Homo sapiens: one gene and its partners. The gene in region 3 interacts genetically with the main gene of each other region. Each region holds a gene or a part of one and is shown on either strand. Other genes may lie near its edges. The genes, in order: GEMIN2, SPOUT1, BDP1, EIF3C, ADAT2, PSMD1 and UBA2.

Region 1 (3,500 bases), on a different chromosome or scaffold from region 3:
CGTATGTACAACTTTCTTTTTTTTTGAGACAGAGTTTCACTCTTGTTGCCCAGGCTGGAGTGCAATGGCGCGATCTCGGCTCACTGCAACCTCTGCCTCCCGGGTTCAAGCAATTCTCCTGTCTCAGCATCCTGAGTACCTGGAATTACAGGCATGTACCACCACACCCGGCTAATTTTGTATTTTTAATAGAGACCGGGTTTCACCATGTTGTTCAGGCTGGTCTCGAACTCCTGACCTCAAGTGATCTGCCTGCCTTAGCCTCCCAAAGTGGTGAGATTACAGGCGTGAGCCACCATGCCCGGCTGTACAACCTTTTTTCAATACAATTTCATCAGTTGTAATATCATCTTGTAGCCATCTTTTTTATTTATAATACATAATAAAATGTTTACCATGTTGTTTTTGTCCTTTTTCTTTTTTTTTTCGAGATGGAGTCTCGTTCTGTCATCCAGGCTGGAGTGCAGTGGTGCCATCTCGGCTCACTGCAACCTCTGCCTCCCAGGTTCAAGCAATCCTCCTGCCTCAGCCTCCTGAGTAGCTGGGACAACAGGCGCCCGCCACCATGCTCAGCTAATTTTTGTATTTTTAGTAGAGATGGGGGTTTCACCATGTTGGCCAGGCTGGTGTCGAACTCCTGACCTCAAGTGATCCGCCCACCTCGGCCTCCCTAAGTGCTGGGATTACAGGAGTGAGCCACCCCACTCAGCCATCCCTTGTAGTTAAATGGGATTAACAAGGGAATGTTAAGTGTCTTGTTTAGAGTATTTAATAACATTCCCTTGTTTAATCTCATTTAACAACATGGGGAAAGTTTATTAAGTATTGCAAGTAAAATGGTGACAAAGGGTATGTATATTCATCAAGGTTTTTCAGATATGATCACCAGATTGTATCCTGGAAAGGTTATACCAAATTTGTATTTCCACCAGTAGTATATACAACTTTGTTTATTCTAAGCAACATATCACTTCGGGGAAACCTAAAAAATATTAGGACAAAATTTAAATAGCAATTTATACAACACACTAAATGGGTTCCTCAGGCAAACTCAAATCAATAGTTAAGACTTTTTCTTACAGAAAAAGATTCAAATCCAGGTTTCTTTTACAAATTGTGGAATTCTTTTTCTATAAAAAAAAATTATATGTTTCAACTTGACTCAAATTTTAAGGGATACATTTACTATGTAAAGCTAGCATTTAAATTAAATATTTAATTTAAATTAAATATTCTCTACACTTGTCCCAGCTACTCAGGAGGCTGAGGCAGGAGGATTGCTTGAACTTGGGAGGCAGAGGTTGCAGTGAGCCGAGATGGCACCACTGCACTGCAGCCTGGGTGACAGAGTGAGACTCCATCTCAAAAAAAAAAAAAAAAAAAAAAAACAAACTTGTCTGCAATGAGATAAGGAGTTTGTACCTTGTACCAGGATATACATCAACTCTTTCATTGACTTTTTTTCTCCAAGACTTTCTCAATGAAGGAAGTAGTATGTTGATTTACATTCTAGTGTTTCTTATTTGACTACAAACAAGTATAGTTCAGATTATACATATGTATATACACACACACACACATATACAAATATAAATATAAATATAAATACTGGCTGGGTGCAGTGGCTCACGCCTGTAATTCCAACACTTTGAGAGGTGGAGGCGGGCAGATCACCTGAGGTCATGAGTTCAAGACCAGTCTGGCCAACATGGAGAAAGCCTGTCTCTACAAAAATACAAAAATTAGCTGGGTGTGGTGGCAGGTGCCTGTAATCCCAGCTACTTGGGAGGCTGAGGCAGGAGAATCACTTGAAACCAGGAGGTGGAGGCTGCAGTGAGCCGAGATCGCGCTACTGCACTCCAGCCTGGGCAACAGAGGGAGATTCCATGTCAAAACAAACAAATAAATAAAAAATAAATAAATACCGTAGCATCACATCAAGTACAGTCATGCATCACTTAATGAAGGGAGATATATTCTGAGAAATGCATTGTTAGGTGATTTTTGACCCTGGATGAACATCATAGAGTATACTTACACAAACCTAGATGGTATAGTCTACTATACCTAGACTATATTGCATAGCCAATTGCTCCTAGGCTACAAACCTATATAGCACATTACTATACTGAATACTGTAGGCAACTGTAACATAATGGTAAACATTTGTGCATCCAAAAAAACCATATATTTATTTCTTAAGATAGGGTCTCACTCTGTCACTCAGGCTAGAGTGCAGTGCAGTGGCACAATCATGGCTCACTGCAGCCTCAACCTCCCTGGCCTTAGGTGATCCTCCTGCCTCAGCCCTCCCTAGTAGTTGGGATTACAGGCATGAGCCACTGTGCCTGGCCAGATCTAAACATATTTAAATACTGGAAAGGAGCCGGGCTCAGTGGCTCATGCTTGTAATCCAAACAGTTTGGGAGGCCAAGGTGGGAAGAACACTTGAGCCTAGGAGTCTGAGATCAGCCTGGGGAACATGGTGAGACCTCGTCTCTATTTAAAAAACACAAAAGGCCGCACACATGGTGGCTCATGCCTGTAATTCCCAGCATTTTGGGAGGGTGAGGAGGCAGGATCATTTGGACTCAGTTCAAGACCAGCCTGGACAACACAGTGAGACCTTGTCTCTAATAAAAAAAACAAAAAACAAAAAACAAAAAAAACTGGGCGTGGCTGCATGCGCCTGTAGTCCCAGCTACTCAGGAGATTGAGGCAGGAGGATTGCTTGAGCTGGGGAGATCAAGGTTGCAGTGAGCTATGATTGTAATACTGCACCCCAGCCTGGGTAACAGAGCGAGACCTTGTCTCAAAAAAAAAAAAAAAAAAAAAAAGAAAAGAAAAAAAGAAAATGTGCAGTAAAAATACAGTATTATAATCCTATAGGAGCACCATTGTATATGTGGCCCACAGTTGACCCAAAACGTCTAATTTTTGCCTACATTATGAAAAGAAAAACATGCAATACTACCAATTCTGGAGTAAAGTCTCTTTCTCCAAACCAATTACTCAGATATTCCAAGACACTAGTTACTGTTGCCTAAAAAAAAAAAGAGGGGGTGGAGAAGAGTTGTATTAATAATAAAACATGAATTCAACATGAGTTTCATTAAGTTTATTTAGAAAGCAACTCTGATGTTAAAAATGGCCTCATTCTTTAAACTTTCAAAGAAAGCTAATTTGTTTGACTCTAATTAGTTTGATTAGGCGGCTTATCCAATGAGGCTTTTTTTTTTTTTTTTTTTTTTTTTTGAGATAGAGTCTCACTCTGTTGCCCAGGCTGGAGCGCACTGGTGCGATCTTGGCTCACTGCAACCTCCGCCTCCCGGGTTCAAGCAATTCTCCTGCCTCAGCCCCCTGAGTAGCTGAGATTACATGCGTGCACCACCACGTCCGGCTAATTTTTGTATTTTTAGTAGAGACAGGGTTTCTGCATGTTGGTCAGGCTGGTCGAACTCTCGACCTCAGGTGATCCGCCCTCCTCGGCCTCCCAAAGT
Region 2 (3,500 bases), on a different chromosome or scaffold from region 3:
CCTATGCCTGACCCCAAAAGTGGGTACACAGGTTCCATGAGGCCAGGACGAAGGCTCCAGCTGCACGTGGCTTCCCCCGTGGGACAGATGCAAGTGAGACCCCAAGGGGAGAGCTGCTGTGCCCACCGTGGTCACACACAAGGAAGTGGCAGAACCAGGGCCCTGGGAGATCACTGAGCGCACGGCTAAGGAACCAGAGGCCCGGAGCAGGGGTGGGCAGGGCCCCCTGGGTCACCCAGTCTGGGAGCACAGGACGGGCACTAGCACCCATGGTTGACTCCCAGCTACACTCATGTCTCGTCGCTGTGGCAAGAGGCCAAGGGGGATGAGAGGACCACCTCCAGACAAGGCAGCCACGGGCAAGGGTGGGTGACAGGGCAAGAGTAGCACCCGCCCCTCGGACAGATCCCAAGGCCCCAGTGGCTGGCAGTCGGGGAGGCAGGCGGGCTCACCTCCGTGCGGATGGTACGGCTACCCTGGCCAGGACAGGTATTGACGTACAGGTCAAAGAGGACACTGGGTTCAGCCACCTCCAGGTTGGGGTCAGCATCCGCTCCAGCTTCCAGACCCTGGAGGCCCCCGAACACCACAAGAGCATGCCTGGCCCATGTAAGAGGGGGTCACCTGAGCGGCCACCGAGGCCCCACCCAGCACAGCGCCCAGACCTCAGTCCCTCCCCACCCCAGACAGCAGGGGCCCATCTGTGCAGCTTCACCCACCAGGCAGGTTCCTGGCCACATTCCTCCTGCCCTGGCCGCAGCCCCAGGAGGTACACACCTGAAGTTGGGAAGCTGGGCAGAGGCCACATCTGAGCCGCGCTCTGACGTCCCGATGGTCAGGTCATACCCATCTTGGAAGGGGGCCTCAGCAAACACAGCACCTGGGGGTGGGGCCAGCTCAGTGCAGGTCCTGCTCCCCACAAGCCATAGCTCCGGGTATTATGTGTGTGTGTACTGAGGCGGGGGTGGGTGGGAAGAGCTGTGTGGTGTGTGTGTGTGTGTGTGTGCGTGTGTGTACTAAGGTAGGGGTGGGTGGGTAGAGCTCTGCCTGTGTGTGCATTGAGGCAGGGGTGTGTGTGTACCGAGCAGGGGTGGGTAGAGCTGTTCCTGGAAAGTCAAGGACTGAGCAGGGCAGACACCAAGCCTGTGCTTGGCTGGGGAACAGGGCAGAGACTGGATAGGAAGAGGCACCAAGAACATGAAGTGGGCCTCTGACTTCTCTGGCCCTTTTGCCTCCATTCCCAACCCTACAGAAACATTATTGATCAATAATGATACTTTTGCTCAGTAGTCCTTAACAGCATTCCAGGCAGTGCATCCAGGGAGAACAAGGCCCAGAGAAGGGGAAGGACTTGCCCAAGGACACACAGCAAGTTGACAGGACAAAAACCCTGGTCTGATATTTGGGTCAGGCAAGGCTCCCGGCCACCTCCCAGAGGGATGGATGGATATTCAGAGAAGTAAGGTCTGTCCTTACTGAGGCAGGAAGCCAGTCGGACGGTGTAGCCCCAGTAGAGACCAGCTTTGGTGCGAGGGTCCTGCGATGATACCACTTTGCCATGGTAGGTCTTGCAGTCTGGAGGGGTAACAGAGTCTGTAAAGATGGGGTGAGGGAATGGAAGCAGGTGGCTGAACCCTGGAGCTCATCAGGCCAACCCAGGGGTTGGGGAACCTTCCAGATACCTGGGTGCTGCTGCTGGTTCAGTCGCACAGTCACCCGAAGCCCGGGCTCCAGGTTCTTGTCAATCTTCACCTCCTGGGGAGAAGCCAGAAGAAATGGGTGCCATTCCTCTCAAGATCAGCAGGGGCCACGGCTCTTCCAGATGCCACCAGGGGAGCCCCGGGGCTGGCAAGGGACCAAGGGGTCCAGGTCAACCTGCCACCCTCCACCCCTGGCACCGGCTGAACCTGCTCACAAGAGATCATTTGTGCAAAACACAGGTCACTGGCCAAACATGCACCTTTGGGGCGCTCATGGCACAGGATAGAAGTAGATGAAACTCAGTTTTCTACATTTTGGTAGCTCTGCAACTTTTTTTTCTTTTTTTTCTTTTTTAAGATGGAGTCTGGCTCTCTCACCCAGGCTGGAGTGCAGTGGCACGATCTCAGCTCACTGCAACCTCTGTCTCCTGGGTTCAAGTGAATCTCCTGCCTTAGCCTCCCGAGTAGCTGGGATTATAGATGCGTGCCACCACACCTGGATCATTTTTGTACTTTTATTAGAGACAGGGTTTCACCATATTGGCCAGGTTGGTCTCAAACTCCTGACCTCAAATGACCCGCCTGCCTCAGCCTCCCAAAGTGCTGGGGTTACAGGCGTGAGCCACTGCGCTTGGGTTGTGCTTTCTGACAGGAAGGGACTCCATACATGTAAAGGTTTCTGCCTCTGATTTGAGGAGGCTTGAGGATAAAGAGGCGGCAAATTAATGCCCTCATCCCAGCTTGGCTCTGTGCCACATGGGAGCAGCTCCAGAGTGACTTTCAACTTGTTTCTGCAGGGTTTTGTTTGGAGCATGAGGACTGTCTTCTGTTGATTTGCTTTTTAAGCAACAGTAAATTCATTCCTGGCTTTATCTATTGAGCCCCATTTTGCACAATTCTCTGGCCCAAATTTGCATCAGTGAGGGATTTCGGGCAGGTCCAGGGCTCTCCGCAACATCCATCTGCTTGCCCTCCATTGCCAGGGTGTGTCCTGGAGGTGTGTCCTAGCCCATCTTTCTGTTCCTACCTTTTTCATGCCACAGTTGACAAAGGAGCCGTGGCCTGGCCGGGTGGGCCGATCCACCACGATGCCCTCTCGGAACTCGGATTCCTCATCCTGACGCATGTGGTGGGGGCTGTCCAGGGGGTTCAGGAGCCCTGTGGAGGCAGAGCCGGGAAGAGTCTGGGAAGTGCTAGGGCACACAGGGTGCAGTGGGGACCCTGGAGCGGAGTACCGGCTCTGCCACAGACCTGCGTCTTGGCATCAGACACAGGTCTTGCTCTCCCAGGCCTGCTTTCCCACCTGGACAGCGCAGGGTAGGACTGGGTGGTCTCAGTGTCTGTGGCATGATCCAGGGGAAATGGGGGGGCGGGCCCATACAGCGTTACCTGCAAACTGTAGATCCTGGTGCTTGGGGAAGAACGCCTTCCTCAGGTACCTAGGAAAGAATGCTGACCTCAGGATGTTCCCAGGGGAAGCCGCCTCCTACCTGGTCTCCACTTTGACACACCCCTCCCTCATGCTTAGGGGAGTGACCCCCTTACTGTGGACACTCCAGGTACTGCAGGATCCGGGCCAGCTGTACGCACGCCTGCCCCTTCTTCCCAACTCCTGTGAATTCCCCCTCCACAGTCCTGGAGAGAGAGAGATGGGGGCTCAGGATCCAGCTGTGGCCCCTTCAAGAGCTCCTGTCTACAAGTGCACGCGTATAATCCCAGCTACTCAGGAGGCTAAGGTGGGAGGATCATCTGAGTGCAGCAAGTAGAGGCTGCAGTGAGCCATGACCATGCCACTGCATG
Region 3 (2,335 bases):
CTTTATCTACAATCTGAGGGGTAAAAATAGCTAAAACTGAATATCCTTTTAAATAAAAAATTTAAAAATAAATAAGCCCTTTGATGTGTCATCTTTATAAATAATTATGTTTAAATACTAGTTTTTCAATTAGGACTAATGTTACATCACCATGAATTAGAAAAATATGTATTTTTCAGTCAGACAAACAGCTGATAATAGAAAAGTTCTTTAACATTTGCCATACTAAAGTGAAGTTTGACAATTTGTTTTCACATATAGTCACGTGTCCCTTAACTACATGTTCTAAGAATTGCCTTGTTAGGTGATCTTGTGTGAAACAACGCAGAGTGTACTTACAAACACTGAGATGGTACAGGCTGCTACACACCGTACAGACTGAGGCTATGTGGTATAGCCTATTGCTCCTCGGCTACAAACCTCTACAATGTGTTACTATGCTGAATACTGTAGGCAGTTGTAACACAATAGTAAGTATTTGTGTATCTAAACATATCTAAACATAAAAAAGCAATGCACTGTGTTATGATGGCTATAATGTCACTAGTTGATAGGAATTTATCTCCATTTTAATTGCATGGGACCACTGTAATATATGTGGTCCATCATTGACTTAAACTTCATTATGTGATACATGACTGTACTTAGAAGCAAATGAAAAAGCCTTCATCCTTCATCATCTCCCCCTAAAAATAAAAAATCTTCACAAAAGAAGTTGCTAAATGTTAAATATGATACAATTAACCCCCAAATCTGTCTGCACTGCAATTCATACAGAGACATATATCCACAACATTCCCAAATGTCCATGTGTGCTTAGCACAGGAAGAGTCAAAATGTAAACAAGAGTTGTTATTTCTGTCTGAGAAAGCAGTCTTAATTGCTTGCTATTTGCAAAATGCTGAATCAGTCAGAATGAAAGGAACCTCAGAAATGTTTTCCACTGATTATAAAAGCTTCAAATCAAGCTCATTAAGTATTCAAAATCAACCTAAAGAAAAATAAGACAGTGATATTTTGCTCTAAATACTGTTTTGTTGATGTAATTGACTCTGGAAATCCTAGACCTAATTTAAAAAAGAAAAAGAGAAAAGATTGTTTTATTCTGTTTCATCCACTTCAATGAAGATATCATTGAAGAAATATTCAGAGACTGTGGTTGCCTCCCCTTGAGGGGCCCGCTTTTGGGCACTTTTATATCCTTCTTTCAGTAAGGGCTGATCACAAGAAACCTAAAAAGGTAATAAAAATAAAGTAAAAATAAAACTGTAATACAACATTTATATATATATGTGTGTGTATATATAGCAGTCTAAACCAATATGATCTGTTTGAAAAGCAACGTGGCAATAAATATTGAGCTTTAAATATGTTCACAATCACTGACCCAAAAATTTCACTTCTATGCTGTTACATTAAGTAAATAATCCTAAACATAGTAGGAGTTTTATGACTAAGATAACCTTTGTAGCATTAGTTATAATAATAAAATAGGAAGCAACTAAATATACCACACTAGATATAATTAGGTAAATTACAGTGTACCCATAATCCATTACTTCATCCTAATTTCCATGAAAAATTTTAATAAAGAAAAATATAATATGGTTAAATCTGTCACTAAATAAAGTAAAAATACTTTAATTATTTGCATAATAGACAGACCCATGACAAAACAGCACCTAAAGAAAACATATCAAAGATACCTTATCAGAAATTAGCATACTTACAAATCTATAAACAAATTAAGACAGCATGGTATTGGCACACGAATGACAGATATATCAATGAAACAGAAGACTAGAAATAACCCCAATATATATAGAAATTTAGCATCTGATAAAAGTGCCATATCAAAAACAGTTATTGTATTATTAAATAAATGATGTTGGACAACTATATAACCATCTCAGGGGGAAAAAAGTCAGACCAATACCTTACCAAAACAAATTCTAGATGGATCAAAAGATTTAAATGTAAAAGTATTTTTTAAAAAACTCTACTATAAAAATGCCATGGAAAAACACTTTTATAATTCTGGACGGAGGTAGGTGGGGAAGGGTACCTTTTTATTTATTTATTTATTTTAAGACAAAGCCAGGCTGGAATGCAATGGCATGATCTCAGCCCACTGCAACCTCCACCTCCCGGGTTCAAGCAATTCTCTTATCTCAGCCTCCCAAGTAGCTGGGACTACAGGCACACACCACCGTGCCTGATTAAATTTTGTATTTTGGTAGAGATGGGGTTTTGCCATGTTGGCCAGGCTGGTCTCAAACTCCTCACCTCAGGTGATCTGCCCGCCTTGGCCTCCCAAAGTGCTGGGATTACAGGC
Region 4 (3,500 bases), on a different chromosome or scaffold from region 3:
CATAGTTAAGAGACTAAAAACTCATTATTGAGAGACACCAACGGAAGTCAGGCCTAACTACACTGCAGAGGACCACACCATTTTCCCATGCCTTCCCAACCACAACTACTGATGGAAAGCCCTAGATGTATACCCTTGCTTAGGATCCTAACTCGGACATTCAGTCTCACTAGAGATCCTGGGGTTCACTTAAAAAACAAAAACAAAAACAAAAAAACGCCTCCAGAATCAGGTAACTCTTAGAAGTAGACAGCAGCTCTGTAAGAGTTCACAGGTCGCTGGGCGCAGTGGCTCACGCCTGTAATCCCAGCACTTTGGGAAGCCGAGGCAGGCAATCAAGAGATAAGGAGATCGAGACCATCCTGGCTAACACGGCGAAACCCCGTCTCTACTAAAAATACAAAAAATTAGCCAGGCGTGGTGGCACGTGCCTGTAATCCCAGCTACTTGGGAGGCTGAGGAGAACTGCTTGAACCAGGGAGGCGGAGGTTGCAGTGAGATGAGATTGCACCACTGCACTCCAGCCTGGGCAACAGAGCAAGACTCCATCTAAAAAAAGAAAAAAAGAAAAAGAGTTCACAGGTCAATCATGACATCAGGTATAGATGAACTTCCCCCTAATACCTTCAGATCACCATAAGACAACAGATGGCCTTATCCCACATCAAAGAGGCTGAAGCTCATGAGAATAAACCCACTCCTTTACAAGCTTGTTTTGACCAAAAGATGAAGGCTGAGAAATGCTGATGATGGAAAGGGTATATTTAGACTGGCTGAATCTGGAGTTGCTGAAAACCCTTACTGGCAGAGGGCCTATCGTGTTTTCTAGAGCATCCACCAACCCTGGGTGGCATACTCAAGGAGAGTTAATATCAGAGTTTACACAGAAAAACGGGCAAACAGAATCCACTGTTCTGTGGTTTTGCCCTCTCTCCTTGTTCCTCTTTCTCCTATATAAATCCTGCTTTTGCTCGGTTGGAAATTAATCTGAAAATCTGTCTCCCTTGTTACACAAGTGAAATAGTGTCTGTGAATTATTCTTCTACACTACAAAGCCACAAACTCTCAATGTCAAAAAGATTCTGACACTTGAAATTCTAACTTTATTTTCTCAAGGGTTTTCCTCAGAACATTGATTCAACTAATTTTAGACTATTCTGATTAGGTATACAAGTTAGTTTACAGGTTAACAAAAAAAAATTTGGCTGGGTGCGGTGGTTCACGCCTGTAATTCCAGCACTTTGGGAGGCTGAGGTGGGCAGATCACGAGGTCAGGAGATCGAGACCATCCTGGCTAACACAGTGAAACCCCGTCTCTACTAAAAATACAAAAAAATTTAGCTGGGCATGGTGGCAGGTGCCTGTAGTCCCAGCTACTCAGGAGGCTGAGGCAGGAGAATGGCGTGAACCCGGGAGGCGGAGCTTGCAGTGAGCCGAGATTGCGCCACTCACTGCATTCTAGCCTCGGCAACAGGCTAGTGTCTCAAAAAAAAAAAAAAAAAAATTCAAGAATAACCTCTAAAAGCATAGCACGTCTAACTCCCAAACCAGCAGAAAAAAACAAAATGAATAATAAGAAAATATATATAACTAGAAACGGGGAAAAAAAAAAGAGGATGAGAAAATACATGTAGGCTAGGTGTGGTGGCTCATGCCTGTAATCCCAGTACTCTGGGAGGCTGAGGCGAGCGAATCATCTAAGGTCAGGAGTTCAAGACCAGCCTGGCCAACATGCTGAAACCTCATCTCTACTAAAAATATAAAAATTAGCTGGGCGTGGTGGTGCTCACGTGTAGTCCCAGCTACCCAGGAGGCTGAGGCCTGAGAATCACTTGAACCCAGGAGGCAGAGGTTGCAGTGGGCCAGGATTGCACCGCTGCATTCCAGCCGGGGCAACACAGTGAGACTCCTTCTCAAAAACAAAAACAAAAAACACACAAATAAAAGAAAAATAAAATACAGGCTGAATATCCCTTATCTGAAATGCTTAGAACCAGAAGTGTTTCAAATTTCAAATAATTGCATATATATAATGGGGTATCTTGGGAAGGGCTCCAAGTCTAACTATGAAATTTGTGTGTTTCATCTACACCTTATACAAACAGCCTGATGGCAATTTTACATAGTATTTTAAATAATTTTGTGCATGAAACAAAGTTTTGACTGCAACCTGTCACATGAGGTCAGATGTGGAATTGTCCACTTATGGTGCTCCAGAAGTTTCAGACTTTGGAATTAGAGATGCCCAATCTTTAGAAGACAGAATGAATTTCAAAATAATTATGATTAAAGAAACTACCCCCTCCAAATTATATACCGTTGATTCCATTTACATAAAATTCTAGAAAATGCTAACTTACCTAGTGACAGAAAGCAAATTAGTGGTTGCCCAGGGATAGGGTGAGGAAACTGAGGCAGGGAGAAGTATTACAAAGGGGAAGGTGGAAATGTTTAGGTGTGAAATTTTTAGGATATTATGTTTTGATTGTGGTGAGTTCTATGGGTGTAAACATATGTCACAACTTATTAAATTTAACTTTAAGGCTGGGTGCGGTGGCTCATGCCTGTAATCCCAGCACTTAGTGGAAGGCCGAGGCGGGTGGATCACGAGGTCAGGAGATCGAGACCATCCTGGCTAACATGGTGAAACCCTGTCTCTACTAAAAGTACAAAAAATTAGCCAGGCGTGGTGGCGGGTGGCTGTAGTCCCAGCTACTCAGGAGGCTGAGGCAGGAGAATGGTGTGAACCCGGGAGGTGGAGCTTGCAGTGAGCCGAGATTGCGCCACTGCACTCCAGCCTGGGCGACAGTGCAAGACTCTGTCTCAAAAAAAAAAAAAAAAAAAAAAAACTTTAAACAAGTGCAGTTATTGTATGTCATGTACACCTCAATAAAGCTATTACAAAATTTAAAATAAAGAGGATAAACAGAAAGTATAAGATACCATAAAATGGTAAGAATAAATGCATTGATAACCACAATAGGCTGGGCGCAGTGGCTCACGCCTGTAATCCCAGCACTTTAGGAGGCCCAGGCAGAAGGGTTACTCGAGCCCAGGAGTTCGAGACCATCCTGGGCAACAGGGCAAGACCCCATCTTGATAAAAACTAATTATGTAGACACATATATAAATAACCATCATATATATGTAAATAACTATAATAAACGTAAATGAACTAAATTGCCAGAGAAGCAGAGATCAAGTTCTGGCGGTCATTGCACAATGTGAACGTACTAAATGCCACTGATTTGTATACCTGAAAATGGTTAAAATGGGAAATGTTATGTATCACAATAAAAGAAAAAAAAAGCAGAGATTTTATGAGATTAAAAAAAAAACAAACCAAAAACCTAGCTGTGCTTAAGAGACACTCTTTTTTTTTTTTTTTTTTTTTTTTCCTGAGACGGAGTCTTGCTCTGTTGCCCAAAGCTGAAGTGCAATGGCGCGATCTCGGCACACTGCAACCTCCGCCTCCCGGGTTCAAGCAATTCTCCTGCCTT
Region 5 (3,500 bases), on a different chromosome or scaffold from region 3:
TTTTTCCTGAAATGCCTTCCACTGCTGTCCGAAACAGAGAGCAAATATGAGCGATCGGAATATTTTAAAAGGACAAATAACGTCATTGTTGAGGAATGGCCGAGCCTGCCATGCTGAGGATGAGTGGGTAAGCAACTGGAATGGTAGGCAGGGGAGGGGGCGGTGAGAATAACACAAAGCCCCATGGAAGTGAGTTGAGGGGAACTCCTTTACAACAATTAACATGTAGATTTGCTTCACTAACAAGTTCACAATAGATTTAATTAAGCTGGAAATCAATTTCACCCCATACCCATATCATACTTTCAAACTCTCCCAACAACTCTACTGTCAAGTCTGATCACTTCTTCACAAATGCAAAAAAGCTCAGGCAAAATGGGTCTGAAATTTGTGCAGGTAGCTTTGAATTTAACCTTTCTTGCCTTTTTTAGGGGGAAAGACCAAGATCAGATACTATTTAAAAATGGCTACAAGGTTTTTCATAAAGTAACAAATGATCAACCTTCAAAATTAAAGAATAAAATCTCTGTTCTTCCCAGCCCAAACACTGGTCTCTATTTTGTCCTTGAATATAATTTCTTTTTTTTCTCTAGTCAGGGCCTGCCCAGATACAGATAATGAAAGCACCTAGATGGAAGAGACTTCGTAGTTTATTATTTTCTCCAAAGACATTACTACTATAAACTGCTTTCTAGTGATGTCATGATAAAAGGGGGAGAGATGGAAACAGACCTTGTTTGCACACAGTTTGATGAGTCCTTAAAGAAATATTTCCTATAAAGACAAAAAATTAGGGGGAACAAACAAGTTAGCCAGAACTCTCAGGTAGAACATCATCCTGTCCAAAAGGCTAAACTATATAACTGTTTCTGCTAATTACTCTCTTCTGAGTGATTACTCTCTGAGTAATTAGCAGAAACAGTTATATAGTTTAACTTTGGGGATTTAAAAAGTGATAATGTTTTTATTCCATCAACTTTAAATTCTTCAATATGGCACTGAAGGTCTCCCAACTATCACCCACCCTCCCATTGGCCAACCGAACCAACCTAACTTTTCATTATTCATTTAGGTTATTAACCTTTTCAGAGCAGAAATCCCCTTTTAGACACTGATGAAAGTTATGGACTGTCTCACTTGAAAAAGGCACACGCACATAATATTTTATATATAGTTTCAGCGTTCATAGATCCCCCTAAACCTGAGCCTGAGGTCAGGGAGCCCTGTTCTAGATAGATAGATAGATCTCCTTCTAACCCAAAACAAAGTTCTTGATTTCTTTGGACATGACAGTATCTTTGCTTGGATCAACCTTTCCTTTCCACCAGCCCACATCCTTTTGGTCCCTTAAAATTTAGAAGGAATTCTATCATTTATCTCAACGGACGTGTTGAAGGACCTTGCCAGCTGTTATCTGACAGCACTTTATATCTGTCTCTTGTGGTCTTTGGACATGTTACTTACCAACCTTTTCATCTGTGCCTGACTTAATTTCATCAATTAAACAGTATGTTCCTGGAAGGCAAGCACTAGATCCAGGCACTACGAAGCTTCTCTTGCTCACCTCTGCAGCCTATGCACCCAGCACAAGGTCTAACACATAGCAAAAACTTAATCATACCACATTTGTTGAAATGGTGTCTGTGGTGTTTGCTTTCTTTTCGAATTTCCCTCAGAGCCTAGCATAATGTTATATTAATATCAATTGCCCCAAAAATGCACACTATAAAAAAATACAATTGACTTTTTTCTAGAAAACTTGCAACATTTTTTCTATACACATATGTATAGATAGTTAGTCAATCTTTCTTTTTTCCTAATTATAAAGTAAGATGTGTTCAAGGTGGAGAACTTAGCGATTAAAAAAAAAAAACCTCATGTATCAAAAAAAAAAAACCCACTAAGAATCCCAATACCCCAAAATATAATCCCTGTTATTCTGAAGCAACGGGGGTTTTTTCTGTTTTTTCCTATGCCCTGCATACACATATTTACAGTTTTTAAAAAGTCAAATAGATTTACACTGTATATACAGTTCAGCAGTCTGCCCTTTTCATTTAGAAATGTATTGTTAACCTTTCCCTATATTGGGTAATATTTTTTCATCACATGATTTTGTAAAGGTTGTACAGTATTTCTCCTTATGAACATATCTGATTCAACCAACTAGTCTCCTATTATTTGACATTTAAGTGATTCAAATTCTTCACTATTATAAACAAGTAAAGAACTTCTCTATATAAATATTTATATTGCTTCTTTGTGATTTATTCCTAGAAACAGCTGTAAAATACAAAGAGCTCCTACAGTGCGATTTTTTAAATCAAACTATTACAAAATTGGGGAAAGTATATGCCTCGGCAATTCACAGAAGAAAAAAATCTAAATGTTCAATTAAATTACACAGTAGATACACAGTATTCAGGTAAAGAAACTGAAAAGGAAGAAAGAGAGCAGAGGATATGTTGGCAAGCAGTGAGCTACCTAACACCGAGAGGCAGGCCAGGCCAGTATTTAACAGCAGATGACAGGCCTCAAATCACAGCCCCATCCTTCCCAGCTCTCTAACTTTGGGGAAGTTACTGAACTTTCTCAGCTTCAATATCCCATCTGAAAATGAGGACCATAATAATACTCACCTGATAGGGCTTCTGTGGGGCTTATAACATGGCCCACATGAAAACACTGTGCATAGCATAGTATCTGGAACACACCAAGAGTGCAACACTATTACTTAGTCATACTTCTTTTTTCCAAGCCTATCTTTAGAATGTTATGCTGAACATGTTATGATGATTAAAATGATAACCTATGATGATGCTATGCTTAGCTCTCAGAAAGAAACCTGCCATGAAAAATAATGGTTTTATTAAAAAGCAGTAAAGTTGATAACCTTATATGCTATCCAACAGATCCTTTTGTAGTGATGGAAATGTCCTTTGATCTGTACTGTCCAATACGGTAGCCAGTGGTTATATGTGGGTGCTGACTACTTGAAATGTGGCTAATACAACTGAGGAGCTAGATTTTATTTTATTTCACCTTAATTAATTTAAACTTAAATAGACACATGTGGTTAGTGGCTACGATATTAGGCATTATGGTTTTAGAAGGCAATACAGGAATATCTATATAATTTCAAAGCACATACATCCTTTGTCCCATTTTAGGTAGTCACTCCATAGCAACAGAAATACCATGAGGTAGGGAGGAGTGACTAATATATTAAGACTACCAAAAAAAACTGCTGATAATCAAAAAGAGAACATATAATTCCATTTATGCAAAAGTACATATGGCTGTTTACATATGGACAGAGAGATATGGAAGGATGCTCCCAAAATACTAATAGTATTATCTCTAATAGTAGGACTTTTAGGTAATTTTTACATAATTTGTTAACCCTTTTTTATAGTTTGAATTTTTTATGACCATGAATTATTTACATAACCAGAAAAAGAAAACATTAAAATATTTTCACTTTGGGAAAAAAAAAAAGG
Region 6 (3,500 bases), on a different chromosome or scaffold from region 3:
TGATTTTATCAAGGTCATAGGATTCAATGTTAGTATATAAAAATCAATTATATTTCTATATACTACCAACAAAAAAAATAGAAATTTAAAAATACCACTTCACAACAGCATCAAAAAACAAATTATACTTAGGGATATAAGAACATTAATTTAAGAAAAGATGTGTAAAACCTCTGCACTGAATCTACAAAACACTACTGAGAAAAAAATAAAAAACCTAAGTAAATGAAAAAGATCACCATATTCCTGGATTACAAGATTCAATATTATCGGGATTTCAATGTGCCCCAAATTGAAGATATTCAATACAATCCCAATCAGAACACCCACAGACTTATATAATGCAAAAAATCTACAATAGCCCAAAGAATCTTGAAAAAGAAAAAAGAATCAAAATTGTAGGTCTTACAATACCTGACTGCAAGACTTAGCATAGTTTTAGTAATAAGGAAAGAGGTAGTGATATAAAGAAAAATATAGGCATACCTTTGTTTTACTGCCCTTCAAGGAAGTCTATTGGAGCCACTTCTCCAATAGTATGTGATCACTTTGTCCTTGTGTTACATTTTAGTTATCCTTGCAATATTTAAAACTTTTTAATTATCGTTATATCTGTTATGGTAATCTGTCATCAGTGATCTTTGATGTTACCATTGTAGTTGTTTTGGGACACCACGAACCACACCCATATAAAACAGCAAACTCAATCAATAAATGTGTGTGTTCTGACTGCTCCACACACCGGTCATTCCCCCATCTCTCTCCTTCTCCTTGGGACTCCCTATTCCCTGAGACACAACAATATTGAAATTAGGCCAATTAATAACCCTACAATGGCCTCTGAGTGCTTAAGTGAAAGAGAGAGTCCCACATTTCTCAGACACAGATATCCAGTGAAAGAGCGGGCTAGGGGGCTGCCGGCATATACAGGCACAACTAAGACACACAAATGTTTTTAGTAAGTGATCTAAACGTGTAAAATACAGAAAAATAAAATTTTAATACCATATCAATTTGTACAGAATGCAAATTTCTAATACTATAGAAATTTGTGTATTTAGTTCTAATAAAAGCATAAAAAGCTGAGAATGTTCTTTACTTTCTAAATATCTAACCCAGATATATCTAACCCAAATATCTAAAAGGTAGCCCCAACCTATCCCCACCTGTTTTTTTAAATTTACTTGATTAAATAGTACACATGTTGTCTGGTAGGCCCTCCCTACGAGATAATCACTTCTATTTCTTTCCAGAAGGGTCAATTTCTTCGGTTTTCCTTACTACACCCAGCACAGTACAAAACAGAGCAACAGCCTAATAAGACTTTACAATCTATGAAAGCTAGTGGCAAAATTTATTCTTAGAATATGCTTCCTATAAATATTCTACCTGTCCCCAAAATGAAATAAAGATTATTCAATTAGTTTTGATGCAGAAAAAGGTACTTATACCTGTCTTTCTCTGATCCCGGAACAGTACCCGTATTAGTGGATCCAGGCACAGAAGCAATAGGGGTGCCAACAGTTCGAAGATTCTGGATTACAGATGACAAAAACTGCTGGCTAGCACTTTCATACAAATCAAAACAAATCTGATATGCCATCAGGAGGTTGTCTTCCTTTACCAGTTTCTCTAAGATATCACTCACAGCCTGAGGATCATCTAAGAAAATTAAGCACTGAAATGGAGATAAAGAACAATTATTCAATAATTAAAAACTTCATCTACAAGGTACTTAAGGAGACAAAATCAACATTATAGAAAACCTTAAAATATAAGCACAGGCAAACTAGGGCAGACTATCCAGTCTAGCACTCTATTTCTAAACCCAGCACTAGATGAAATTTTTCTAAACATGGCATCTGTCTTCCATAAAAAAATTCATACAAATTATATTTATAACTCTTAATGCTGTGCCTGGTAATCAGCAGTATTCAACATTGGTTGTTGAATGAATCTTGGCTTCTTTAAATCTTATCCATAAGTTATACCTAAGTGCTCCTTAATTTGTTATTTTCTCCCTTACCATATATTATGGAAGTTACTCATTCATTTAACATACATTGTGTTGTGTTGGGCCAGGACAAGAGACATTAAAATTACCATTTTGAAGCATTTCTCTTACTACTCTTATGATCTGCCATTGTTTTAACAAAATTATCCAACAAAGTTAGAATTTTTCTTTTAAAAACTCAATTTAAATTTTCTTGTTCCCTTAGGCAGCAAGTAACTCAACTTCAAAATAAACACATTAATCAAAGTTATTATAAATTAAGAACACGAAATAACACAAACAAAATAAGTGGTCAACAATAGGGGAATGATTAAGTAGGGCAAAGTACATACACTGAATGATTACAACAATCAAGTAAGAGGACTCTATGAAGAATTAGAACATGGAAAAATGTTAAAGACTGTATACAATTAACACTGTTTATCCACAGAGAAAAGAACTTGGTAGCTGGAGCCAAGTAATAGGAAGACTTCATTGTATACCCCATCATTCTTTTTGAATTTTAAATCACATGAACATATTATCTGCTCAAAAATATATTATTTTAAAAATGAGCAATAAAGTTTTTAAAAATAATAAAAAGATAAGGAATAAAACAGCTGAAAGAAATAAAATTGCCTCTAAGGAATAAAACTGAAATACAGACAGGAAGAGGGCAGGGAACTACTATTTTTCATGTCAGTTTTAAAAAAAACTATGAAAAATATTTACAAACAACAAAACTCCGAAAACCTATGTAGAGAAAACTGAAAGGAAATACACTATTAAATACTAAATTGACTTTGGGTGATGTAAAAAATCAAGTTAGAATAGTAAGTTGACTTTGGGTGATTTAAACATGGATATTTTTTCTTCTAGTATTTTGTTTCAAACTTGCTTTAAAAGGGATTGTAAAAAACAGTGTTTTAATCTAAATTTTCAAAGTCTAGAGGATTAAAATACACAGGAGCACATTTTAATGAAGAAACAATAAAATGTGCAATAAAATGCTATGCCCTGAGCAGAATACAAAAAATGTATACAACATAGCAATTGTTAAAAAGTAAACCCATGCACACCTCCAGTCAATAAAATACAATACAGTCATTAAAAGAATGCAGTAGATCCACATGTGTGAATAAGTAGGGAAAAACATCTATGTCTTACCTTTGGGAAAAAGCCCAAATGATGGGAAAGAGAAGCCTTACTTTTCATTTTATATATTTTCTGTACCATCTGAATTTTTTTTTATGTGCAAGCAAATTTATATATAGAAAGAGATAAAGAAAAGATACCCAAATGTTTTGGTGTGTATGGGTAATGAAACCATATATAATTTATACACTTTGAATTCTCTTTAGAATGATATAGTATAGCATAGGCACTGTTTTAATCTTCTAGCTTTTTAAAAAACCTTCGTTATTTCTAAAAATTTCCTTAAATTATTGGATTTTCAAAATGAAAAAAGAATACAAAGAAAGAATGTGTTACAACAAAATAGCTTTTT
Region 7 (3,500 bases), on a different chromosome or scaffold from region 3:
AGCATGATCTCCATTCACTTCAACCTCCGCCTCCCAGGTTCAAGCGGCTCTCATGGCTCAGCCTCCCGAGTAGGTGGGACTACAGGCGTGTGCCACCACACCCCACTAATTTTTGTATTTTTAGTAGAGACAGGGTTTCGCCATGTTGCCCAGGCAGTTCTCAAACTCCTGGCCTCAAGTGATTCACCCACCTCAGCCTCCCAAAGAAAAAAAATGTTTGCCAAATAAATAAAGCTTCCAAGTGTAGTTTTTGTGAACATTTATCAAGTTGACACTGTTATGTATACTTTTCTGAGTGCAAAAATTAAAGACAATGTTTGCTGAAGGTTTCTACAAAATACCCTTTATCGGGTTGAGAACATTCTCATTTTAGTAAGAAGTTTTTTTATTTTTAATTTTATCTATTTATTTATTTTTTATTTTTTTGAGACGGAGTATCGCTCTGTCGCCCAGGCTGGAGTGCAGTGGTGCAATCTCAGCTCACTGCAACCTCCGCCTCCCGGGTTCACGCCATTCTCCTGCCTCAGCCTCCTGAGCAGCTGGGACTACAGGCACCCACCACCACATCCGGCTAATTTTTTTTATTTGTAGTAGAGATGGGGTTTCACCGTGTTAGCCAGGATGGTCTCGATCTCCTGACCTCGTGATCCGCTCGCCTCAGCCTCCCAAAGTGCTGGGATTACAGGCGTGAGCCACCTCGCCCGGCCTAGTAAGTTTTTATTCTGTTTTAGTAGAAACTTTCATCATGAAAGGCCATTTGCTAAATTTTACCAAATGCTTTCTCTGTATCTATGAAAACTATATAGTTTATCTTTAATTTCCTAATGAGTGAATGACATTTACAGATTTTCTAGTTTAAACCATGCTTGTATTCCTGAATAGACACGTGGTCAAGACACACTTTTTATTTTATATGATTCTAGATCCATATGGTAATTTTTTTTTTTTTTTTTTTGAGATGGAGTCTTGCTCTGTTGCCCAGGCTGGAGCGCAGCAGAGCGATCTCGGCTCACTGCAGCCTCCACCTCCCGGGTTCAAGCAATTCTCCTGCCTCAGCCTCCCAAGTAGCTGGGATTATAGGCGCCCACCACCATGTCCGGCTAATTTTGTATTTTTAATAGAGACAGGATTTCGCCATATTGGCCAAGTTGGTCTTGAACTCCTGACCTCAGGTGATCCACCCGCTTCAGCTTCCAAGTGCTGAGATTACAGGCATGATACACTGCGCCCATTCCCAGGATATGCTAATATTTTACATAGGATTTTTGCATCTATTATTTAGGTGTGAGACTGACTAGCAATTGTTTCTTATGCCATAATGGCCTTGACAGGTTTTGCTATCAAAGACATTGCTAGCCTAATAACACAAGCTAAGTAGTATTCCCTTTTAAAAATTTCTCAGGGAGAGTTTAGCTAATATTACAATATACTCCTTGCAAGTTTTGTGAAATGAATCTGTAAAAATAACATAGGTTCGGTGCATTATTTAGAATAATTTAAACTACTTACATTGCTCTAAGGTATACTGCTAAATTCAGGCATTCTATTTTCCTTTCATTTTTTTTTTTTTTTTGAAACATCATCTCATGCTGTCCCCCAGGCTGGAGTGCAGTGGCCCAATCTCCACCCACTGGGTTCAAGTGATTCTCATGGCTCAGTCTCCCAAGTAGCTGGGACTACAGATGCCCACCACCACGCCTGGTTAATTTTTGTATTTATAGTAGAGACGGGGTTTCGCCATGTTGGCCAGGCTGTTCTCAAACTCCTGGCCTCAAGTGACCCACCCACCTCAGCCTCCCAAAGTGCTGGGATTGCAGGCCTGAGCCACCGCACTGGGCACTTAGTAAGTTTTTAAAAATGTATTTACCCAGATCATTTAAATTTTTTATGTACTACCATGGTCTTATTATCATCCCTTTTTTTTCTTATAGCCTATTTAATCTCTGCTATCTGTATTCCCCGTTTAGTTCTCACTTACTCCTCTTCTATTTTGTAATCAAATGTGCTCTTACTTCAATTAATATCCTTCCTTCTCATTCTTTTTTTCTTTCTTTCTTCATTTTAAGACAGGATCTCACTATCACCCAGGCTGGAGTGCAGTGGCACTATCTCGGTTCACTGCAGCCTCAACCTCCCAGGCTCAACTGATCCTCCTACCTCGGCCTCCCAAGTAGCTGGGAGTACAGGTACACCTGGCTCATTTTTCTATTTTTTGTAGAGACACGGTTTTGCCATGTTTCCCAGGCTGGTCTCAAACTCCTGGGCTCAAGGGATCCTCCCATCTCACCCTCCCACAGTGCTGGGATTAGAGGCATGAGCCACCATGCCCACACCATTCTCATTTCTTAAAGTGTATTCTGTGGTTCATTTTCTAACTTAAATTGGATTCTTAGTAAAGATTTAGTAATTAATGTTCAGCCTTTCTTCATGTATGTAAATCTGTAACTTTTTGCCAACCACCACATTCAATACATTCTGGTATAGCATTTTCATCATTATCAGTACAGAGTATTTTTAACTTCCATTGTGATTTCTTTTATAACCAATGGGTTATTTGTAAGTAAATGTTCACATTTCCAAATATAAAGATTTTTATCGCTTAGTTACATGGCTGTCTCCAATATAAGACTAAGTTTCCTGAACAGTCATGGCCACATTTTTTTTTTTTTTTTTTGAGACAAATTCTCACTCTGTTGCCAAGCTGGAGTGCAGTGGCGCGATCTCGGCTCACTCCAACCTCCACCTCCTGGGTTCAAGCAATTCTCTTGCCTCAGCCTCCCGAGTAGCTGGGATTACAGGCACTCGCCATCACGGCCAACTAATTTTTGTATTTTTAGTAGAGATGTGTTTCACCATGCTGGCCACGCTGGTCTCAAACTCCTGCGCTCAGGTGATCCGACCACCTCAGTTTCCCAAAGTGCCGGGATTACAGGTGTGAGCCACCGCACCCGGCCAGCTACATTTAACCTAAGAAATACTGCAAGAAAGCTACTAAAGCATCCCTTCACCATATTTAAACATCCTGAGTTCAATCTCTTCAAGGTAATTAAATAAAAATGACTCCATTTTCCATCATCAGTACCGAAAAGCATGCCAAGAAATATACACTCTTACTTGAACAAGTACTTTGCCCAAACGATGCAATGTATAGGTTCTGAAGGTGTGTTACGAATTGTACAGCCAGGAAAGGTTCTCTGGGTCGGCTTAGGATGACACTCATAACACTCGGTCACACCCTATGAAGTCAGGATATGAGAAAAATTTACTCCATGATGGCAGTTTCTCAACATTATAAGGTAATATAAACACTTCATTCATCTATATTCCAACTACGTTTTACGTTGTCAAGGAAATTTTAAAATATTAGTGACTCCAAAATGCTTACTTTATGATAAACTAACACAAAAGCTAACTGAATCTACCAGTCATAGCTAAGGCTGTGCCAGGACGCCGACTCCTGGTTCAGTGAACATGACTTACAAGCCCAAATAAAAATTACT

The links.
Region 1: changes in BDP1 (region 3) and GEMIN2 together harm fitness less than expected from each alone (positive genetic interaction), as found in Homo sapiens cells (one large-scale study listed by BioGRID).
Region 2: changes in BDP1 (region 3) and SPOUT1 together harm fitness less than expected from each alone (positive genetic interaction), as found in Homo sapiens cells (one large-scale study listed by BioGRID).
Region 4: changes in BDP1 (region 3) and EIF3C together harm fitness less than expected from each alone (positive genetic interaction), as found in Homo sapiens cells (one large-scale study listed by BioGRID).
Region 5: changes in BDP1 (region 3) and ADAT2 together harm fitness less than expected from each alone (positive genetic interaction), as found in Homo sapiens cells (one large-scale study listed by BioGRID).
Region 6: changes in BDP1 (region 3) and PSMD1 together harm fitness less than expected from each alone (positive genetic interaction), as found in Homo sapiens cells (one large-scale study listed by BioGRID).
Region 7: changes in BDP1 (region 3) and UBA2 together harm fitness less than expected from each alone (positive genetic interaction), as found in Homo sapiens cells (one large-scale study listed by BioGRID).

What each region holds. Positions count from the first base shown.
Region 1 is NC_000014.9:39,127,823-39,131,322, reverse strand, and holds part of GEMIN2 (gem-associated protein 2), read right to left. Parts: intron 3,044-3,500; coding exon 2,975-3,043; intron 1-2,974. UniProt on the Homo sapiens protein: The SMN complex catalyzes the assembly of small nuclear ribonucleoproteins (snRNPs), the building blocks of the spliceosome, and thereby plays an important role in the splicing of cellular pre-mRNAs.
Region 2 is NC_000009.12:128,823,295-128,826,794, forward strand, and holds part of SPOUT1 (28S rRNA (uridine-N(3))-methyltransferase), read right to left. Parts: intron 3,336-3,500; coding exon 3,246-3,335; intron 3,140-3,245; coding exon 3,090-3,139; intron 2,859-3,089; coding exon 2,728-2,858; intron 1,756-2,727; coding exon 1,683-1,755; intron 1,576-1,682; coding exon 1,477-1,575; intron 881-1,476; coding exon 778-880; intron 601-777; coding exon 453-600; intron 1-452. Other genes in the region: KYAT1-SPOUT1 (uncharacterized protein LOC127739546), read right to left, coding at 453-600, 778-880, 1,477-1,575, 1,683-1,755, 2,728-2,858, 3,090-3,139, 3,246-3,335. UniProt on the Homo sapiens protein: S-adenosyl-L-methionine-dependent methyltransferase that specifically methylates the N3 position of a uridine in 28S rRNA. Required for association of the centrosomes with the poles of the bipolar mitotic spindle during metaphase.
Region 3 is NC_000005.10:71,563,651-71,565,985, reverse strand, and holds part of BDP1 (transcription factor TFIIIB component B'' homolog), read right to left. Parts: exon of another isoform or gene 1,233-2,335; coding exon 1,101-1,232; 3' UTR 1-1,100. UniProt on the Homo sapiens protein: General activator of RNA polymerase III transcription. Requires for transcription from all three types of polymerase III promoters. Requires for transcription of genes with internal promoter elements and with promoter elements upstream of the initiation site.
Region 4 is NC_000016.10:28,717,964-28,721,463, reverse strand, and holds part of EIF3C (eukaryotic translation initiation factor 3 subunit C), read right to left. Parts: intron 3,189-3,500; exon of another isoform or gene 432-3,188; intron 1-431. UniProt on the Homo sapiens protein: Component of the eukaryotic translation initiation factor 3 (eIF-3) complex, which is required for several steps in the initiation of protein synthesis.
Region 5 is NC_000006.12:143,444,196-143,447,695, forward strand, and holds part of ADAT2 (tRNA-specific adenosine deaminase 2), read right to left. Parts: intron 2,704-3,500; coding exon of another isoform or gene 2,640-2,703; intron 775-2,639; coding exon of another isoform or gene 733-774; exon of another isoform or gene 1-732. UniProt on the Homo sapiens protein: Probably participates in deamination of adenosine-34 to inosine in many tRNAs.
Region 6 is NC_000002.12:231,070,367-231,073,866, reverse strand, and holds part of PSMD1 (26S proteasome non-ATPase regulatory subunit 1), read right to left. Parts: intron 1,679-3,500; coding exon 1,452-1,678; intron 1-1,451. UniProt on the Homo sapiens protein: Component of the 26S proteasome, a multiprotein complex involved in the ATP-dependent degradation of ubiquitinated proteins.
Region 7 is NC_000019.10:34,438,381-34,441,880, reverse strand, and holds part of UBA2 (SUMO-activating enzyme subunit 2), read right to left. Parts: intron 3,237-3,500; coding exon 3,115-3,236; intron 1-3,114. UniProt on the Homo sapiens protein: The heterodimer acts as an E1 ligase for SUMO1, SUMO2, SUMO3, and probably SUMO4. It mediates ATP-dependent activation of SUMO proteins followed by formation of a thioester bond between a SUMO protein and a conserved active site cysteine residue on UBA2/SAE2.